Homo sapiens: one gene and its partner. The protein of the gene in region 1 purifies or fractionates together with the protein of each later gene. This does not show direct contact. Each region holds a gene or a part of one and is shown on either strand. Other genes may lie near its edges.

What was found. The genes of interacting proteins can lie anywhere in the genome.
Region 2: the proteins of KCNG4 (region 1) and CA1 purify together in Homo sapiens (affinity purification with mass spectrometry; one large-scale study listed by BioGRID and IntAct). This does not show direct contact.

The regions. Positions count from the first base shown.
Region 1 is NC_000016.10:84,226,513-84,230,012, reverse strand, and holds part of KCNG4 (voltage-gated potassium channel regulatory subunit KCNG4), read left to right. Parts: intron 1-3,500. UniProt on the Homo sapiens protein: Regulatory subunit of the voltage-gated potassium (Kv) channel which, when coassembled with KCNB1, modulates the kinetics parameters of the heterotetrameric channel namely the time course of activation, deactivation and inactivation and on the voltage-dependence of activation.
Region 2 is NC_000008.11:85,371,614-85,375,113, forward strand, and holds part of CA1 (carbonic anhydrase 1), read right to left. Parts: intron 1,126-3,500; exon of another isoform or gene 528-1,125; intron 1-527. UniProt on the Homo sapiens protein: Catalyzes the reversible hydration of carbon dioxide. Can hydrate cyanamide to urea.

The sequences.
Region 1 (3,500 bases):
TAAGAGGCCCTGTACAAGAGCCAGCTCCTGCCTCCTCATCTGTCCCTTTCTCGGACCATGAATCAGCTTCCTAAAAAACTGGCCTGCTCTCTGGAGCTTCTCTGTGCTTGGTGGCATTTGGTAATTGCTCTAGCGAATGCTTCTTATCCTAGTTTTGTTGCTTTTGTTTTTTTCCTGCAGCTGTGTCTCTCCCTATGTCCCAGCCAAGAAGCAATATTCCCTGTTTCCTGGCCTGGGGCCTCCTTGATGCTCTGCAGGTGACACTGTTTCCTCTGCCTCCTCACAGTCCCCCCACCTCTGCAGGTCCAACTCCAGCCCCCCGCAAATGCCCCATGCAGACGCCACCACCCACACTCATTCATGAGTCGTTCAGGAAGGGCCCCTGCAGGCCGGGCCTGTGCTGGACACTGGGAGAGTCCCTAGGTCTCTCCTTCGGTGACTGCTGACGGGACACCAGCACAGAGGCGATGGGATGGCGGCCCGCCTTCCCCACACGGGGAGAACCGCTGTGAGATTCAGAGTCAGTGGATACTTCTTAGACCCCTGCTGGGCTCCTGGCCCTGTGCTAGTCATTTCCCTGTTTCCTAATTTAATCCTCACCACAATCCCATTCTACAGATCAGAAAACTGGGTCTCAAGAAGTTATGCAACTTGCCTGACAGCAGCTAAGCTAGTAATGCTCCCTCAGTGGCAGCTGCTTTTTTTTTTTCTTTTTTTTTTGAGACAGGGTCTTGCTCTGTTGCCCAGGCTGGAGTGCAATGGTACAATCTCGGCTCTCCTCCAACCTCCTGGGTTCAAGTGATTCTCATGCCTCAGCCTCCCGAGTAACGGATTACAGGTGTGCACCACCACGCCAGGCTAATTTTTGTGTTTTTAGTAGAGACAGGGTTTCCACACACTGGCCAGGCTGGTCTCAAACTCCCTTGCCTCAAGTGATCTGCCCACTTCAGCCTCCCGAAGTGCTGGGATTACAGGCGTGAGCCACCATGCCCAGCCCAGTGGCAGCTGCTTTCTAGTAAGAATTTGCTGGAACCTCTAGAAGAGAAGTCAGCCATCCAACCCGCCCAAGGTGAAGGCCGTGGAGAGCCGGTGATGGATCAGCCACAGGGCATGAACCGGAGGGCAGCAGCGGGAGAGGACTGAGGAGGAAGAGAAGCAGCGTAGATTTGGGAAGCTTCTACACTGCAGCATCCCTCAGCGGGTCTCCCGGGTGCCCACAATCGCCCTGTGGGATGACAGTTACCTTCCCCACTTCACAGAAGGGAAGACGCCTTCAGAGAGATGACTCATCGGCCAGGTCCCATGGTGGGGCTGACCCCGTCCGGTTGGTTCCAGCACTCTCAGAGCCCTTGTGTCCCAGGGTTGGGAAGTGGGGACAGCTGCTAGAAGGAGTGGGCGGGGGGGTGGCGGGGAGACCTGGGGAGGAGGGATTGCGGCTCGGGGTGAGTAGTGCCTGGGGGGAGGCCCATGGGAGCGGAGTAAAGGAGGGGAGGGTAGCGGAGGGCACGGCTGGCCGAGAGAAAAGTGGCTAAAGGAGTGGGCAGAGGAGTGAGTCAGCACATCCAGGCCCCAGGAGAGCCTCAGAGGAAACAGCTCAGGGCCTCGGGCCAGGGCCAAAGGCACAAATGGTGAACTCACAGCAGGAGGGAGGGGAGGGAGGGATGCCGAGCTGCAGAATGGACCAGCCCTGACTAAGGAGCTGCAGAAGTGAGAGGTGGCCACGTTCTGAAGTGGGGCTGGCAGCATTTTGCTGGGAGGGACAGAGGGGGCGAGGAAGTCTCCAAGGTCAAGACTGTGGGCCCTGAGCCCCTCCCAGATGGAGCTTCCAGAACTGGCCTGCATTGCATCTGCAGGGCCCCCAGGGCAGCAGCTTTGCCCTCAGGAAGCCCCGCTCTGCTGCTGCGTGAAACAGGTGAGGGCCAGGCTGTGGGACCCCCACTACTTCCACTTCCTGCCTCCCCCAGGAGTGTTCAGCCAGCTCAGACTCCGACGATAACTCCCATACCACAATATTGGCCCTTTTAAAGTGCACAATTCGGTGGTCTTTAGTATCATCGTGGAGCTGTGCAGCCATCACTGCTACCCTCCTCCTCCATCCAGCCCCGGACACCCACCCCTCTGCTTTCTGTCTCTGTGGATTTGCCTGCTCTGGACATCTCACATAAGTGGAATCATCCAACATGTCGTGTCTGTGTCTGGCTTCTTTTCACTCAGCATCGTGTTTTCAGGGTGCATCCATGTTGTAGCACGATTTAGCCCTTCATTCCTTTTCATGGCTGACTACTATTCCATTGTATGAATAGGCCGCATTTTATGTATTCACTCATCAGTTTATGGATGTTTAAGTTGTCTCTACTTTGGGGCTATTATGAATAATACTACCATGGACTTTTGTGTACAAGTTTTTTTGGGTTTTGTTTTGTTTTGTTTTTTTCTGAGACAGATTCTAGCTCTGTCGCCCAGGCTGCAGTGCAGTGGCACAAGCTTGGCTCCCTGCAACCTCCACCTCCTGAGTTCAAGTGATTCTCCTGCCTCAGCCTCCCGAGTAGCTAGGATCACAGGCACCTGCCACCATGCCTGGCTAATTTTTGTATTTTTAGTAGAGATGGGGTTTTACCATGTTGGCCAGGCTGGTTTTAAACTCCTGACCCCAGGTGATCCACCCGCCTCGGCTTCCCAAAGTGCCAGGATTACAGGCGTGAGCCACCACACCCGGCCTGTGTACAAGTTTTTGTGTGGACATGTGTTTTCATTTGTCTGAGCTATACACCTAGGAGTGGAACAGCTGGGTTGCATGGTAATTCTGTTTAACCTTTTGAGGACCTGCCAAACTGTTTCCACTGCCGCTGCCCCATTTTACATCCCCACCAGTAGTGATGGGTTCCAGTTTCTCCACAATCTCACCGACACTTGGCTATTGTCTGTCTTTATGATTTTAGCCATCCTAGTGGATGTCAATTTGTGTCTTATTGTGCTTTTGATTATCCTTTTTTTTTTTAACTTTTCATCATGGAGAACTTCAGACATTTACAAGGTAAATAGAATAATATAAGGAACTTCTGGGAAACCATGACTCCATGACTTAGCTACACACAATGGTCAATATTCTGCCGCTTTTGTGTATGTTTGTCTTTGAGACGGAGTCTCGCTCTATCGCCCAGGCTGCAGTGCAGTGGTGCAATCTCGGCTCACTGCAACCTCCGCCTACCAGGTCCAAGCCATTCTCCTGCCTCAGCCCGCCAAGTAGCTGGGATTACAGGCATGTGTCACCATGCCTGGCTAATTTTTGTATTTTTAGTAGCGACAAGGTTTCACCATATTGGTCAGGCTGGTCTCGAACTCCTGACCTCAGGTGATCCACCCACCTTGCCCTCCCAAAGTGCTGGGATTACAGGCGTGAGCCATTGTGCCCAGCCAATATTCTGCCATTCTTGTTTCCTCTCTTTCCATCCCCTCTCCACCTCAGATCACTTATAATCATTTGTTACTATTTTTCTTCT
Region 2 (3,500 bases), on another chromosome or scaffold:
CCACCCAATACAAATATTTGTCTAAAGCAATACCTGGAGAGGTAATATGATTTACAACTTAATGAGAAAAATAAAATAATTTGCTGAGCGTGAGTGAAGCTACTTTAGAGAATGAGAACAGTAAAGATTTTACTGTGTTGATAAAGACTGGATTGCACTCAGTGAATTACAGAGCAGCAAGGTTCTGATATTTACTTTCAGTTCCTCTTCACTGAGGAACTTTTGAACTTCTACATGCATTGTGGCTAAAAGAATTGTGGCCTGTCTTCTATGGATGATTTTAAGCTCAACCATCAAACATCCATTAAACACCAAGTATATGTCAGGTCCTATGCTGGGTGTTGAGGACAGAAGATGAGTGAGGAGCTCATAATGTTGTACAGGAGAAAGACATATAAGTAAATAATAATGAAAGGGATTGCCACTTTTTAAGTGCAGACTACGTGCTAATGGTTTCACATATATTATTTCACCAAATCTTTAAAACAATCCTAGAGTCATGTTTATTTTTATCCTCATTTTACAAGCGAGGAAACAAAATCATGGACGATGGACCATATGCCATGGTAGAACTAAAGTTCAGACGCGAGCACAGAGAAGACCCAGGTTTTTGGGAGGCCCTCTTTAAAAAAGAATGCACTTTGTACTCATCAGACGGCTACTATGAAACAAAAAGAAAACCAACCAGACAAAAATACAGCAGAAAACAAGTGTTGGCGATGATGTGGAGAAATGAGAACCCTTGTGCATTTCTGGTGGGAATGTAAAGAGCTGTCACCATTGTGGAAAGCAGTATGGTGATTCCTCAAAGAATTAAACACAGAACTACCTTATGGTCCAGCATTCCACTTCTGAGTATATATCTGAAAGAAGTGAGAACAGGGGATTCTACAGATATTTGTACACCTGTATTCATAGCAGTGTTATTCACAATATTCCAAAGGTGGAAACAAACCCAGTGTTTATTGTCAGATGAATGAATAAACAAAATGTGGTACTATATATACAGTAGTTTCCCCCTTAACCAAAGCTTTGCTTTCCTCTGTTTCAGTTATGTATGATCCACCACAGTCCAAAATTATTAAATGGAAACTTCTAGAAATAAACAATACGTTTTCAATTGCATGCCATTCTGAGTAGTGTGATGACATCTCACAGCATCCCACTCCATCCTGATGGGGCCGTGAATCTTCCCTTTGTCCATCATATCGCCTCTGTACATGCTGCCCTCCCCTTAGTCACTTAGTAGTCTTCTCAGTTATCAGATTTTCTGTTGCCATGTTGCAGTGCTTGTGTTCAAGTAACCCTTATTTTACTTCATAATGGCCCCAAAGCCCAAGACTTGTGATGCTGGTAATTTGGATATGCCAAAGAGAAGCCATCAGTCCTTCCTTTAAGTGAAAATTTGAAAGCTCTTGGCTTAATAAGGAGAGGAAAAAAGTCATATACTGAGGTTGCTAAGATCTACGGTAAGAACAAATCTTCTATCCAGGTAATTGTGAAGGAGGAAAAAGAAATTCGTGCTAGTGTTGGTGTTGCAACTCAAACTGTAAAAGTTACAGCTACAGTGCAAGATGGGTGTTTCGTTAAGACGGAAAAGACATTAAATGGGTGGGTGGAAGACATGAATAGAAAACATGTTTTGATAACCACCAGTTGCACCAGAAAGCACTGAGCATCTGCGAAGACTTCAGCAAGCAAGAAATGAGTTGACACCACGCCGCAAAGGGCTGGTTACACTGATTCAGAAATACAGAAGGTCAGTAGCAGCCTATGGCTACATCACAATGCTTACATCATTCACCTCTTGTCATCTCATCACAGAGGCATCACAGCATCTCCCATGACAAGAAAGGTGAGTACAGTACAATGCAATATTTTGAGAGAGAGAGAGAGACTACATTCACATAACTTTTATTATGATATATTGTTATAGTTGTTCTATTTTATTATTAGTTATTGTTGTTAATCTCTTCCTATTCCTAATTTATAATTTAAACTTTATCATAGATGTGTTTGTATAAGGAAAAAAACATAGTGTTTATAGGGTTCGGTACTAGCCATGGTTTCAGGTATTGTCTTGTAACGTATCCTCACAGATAAGGGGGACTACTGTATATACAAGGGAATATTATTCAGCCTTAAAAAGAAATGATACATGCTACAATATGGAGGAAGATTGAAGACACTATGCTAAGTGAAATAAGCCATATACAAAGGGACAAATACTGTGTGATTCCACTTATATGGGATAACTAGAATAGTCAAATTTATAGAGCTAGAAAATAGAGTAATTGCTGCCAGAGCTCGGGGGAGGAAGGAGTGGGGAGTTATTGTTTAATGAATATGGAGTTTCAGTTTGGAAAGATGAAAAAGTTCTGGAGATGATGCGCGATGGGGGTTGCACAGCAACGTCAATGTACTTAATGCCACAGACCTGTATACCTTAAAATGTTTAAAGTAGTAAATTTAATTTTACCACAAAAAGAATACAAAATTAATAATAAAATTAGTGACAAAAGTGAATATCTATTTAGAACAAGAAAATGATTTATAATAAATCAAATATTTTACAAAGTTAAATATCAAAAATATCACAAAATCTAAAAAACAATATTTCATATTCAGCCACTGCCAGACACAATCCTCTAAGAGCTTTTATCTATATTTTAATTTCATAATTCTGGATTATCTCTTCATATAGCAAAAATTTTATATTATTTTCTGTAGAGAGAATAGAAAGATATTTCAGTCTTATTTCAAGCATGGTTGATTAAAATTTTTGTTTGTTCTTATTAATACTGGGATTCATAAAACTTCACACACATTTGAAGTACTGCTATAGGTTTGTGTCTTAATACACAGGATTCTTTAATTTTGTACTATTTTCATCAAAAAAATTTTGTAACATATGATGTGGTTTTAATCGTACGTAAGACATTATCAGATACATTCCTGAGAGAACCTGTCTTAACTAGGTTTTCTGGTCAAATTCTAAAACCAAATTCTCTGCCTGCAGCTTTACACACTGGATGATTGAAATTATTTTCCCTCGATTAGCTCTGTCTCTGTGCATTTCACCATCTGTTTCTCTTCAATAACCTACAAATTTCTGAACCTGGGAGCCATTAGGAAGCACACTTTCACTTTTCAATATGACTTCTGGCCCTGCATATTTGTTTTGGCATAGTGGATGCTACCCTGAATGGCTAGCAATAAATTATCAATATACAGAAATGACTGATACCCACATAAATATGACCCACTAAAGCCAAACTAAAATTATTCTCAACTCAACTTTCCCCATTTGGGTCTCAAAAATGCCCACAGCCCCTCCAATACCACCTGATACAGGAAATATGATGCCGTACAGTCAGAGTAAAATGATAATGGGGTTGACTGATTGTGGTTAAATATCTTTTGCAAATTTTATATAAAACATATGATTGTGTGAACACATTTCTTGTGCCCTTCTGGGATCTTGGAAGTAAATCAAGCAA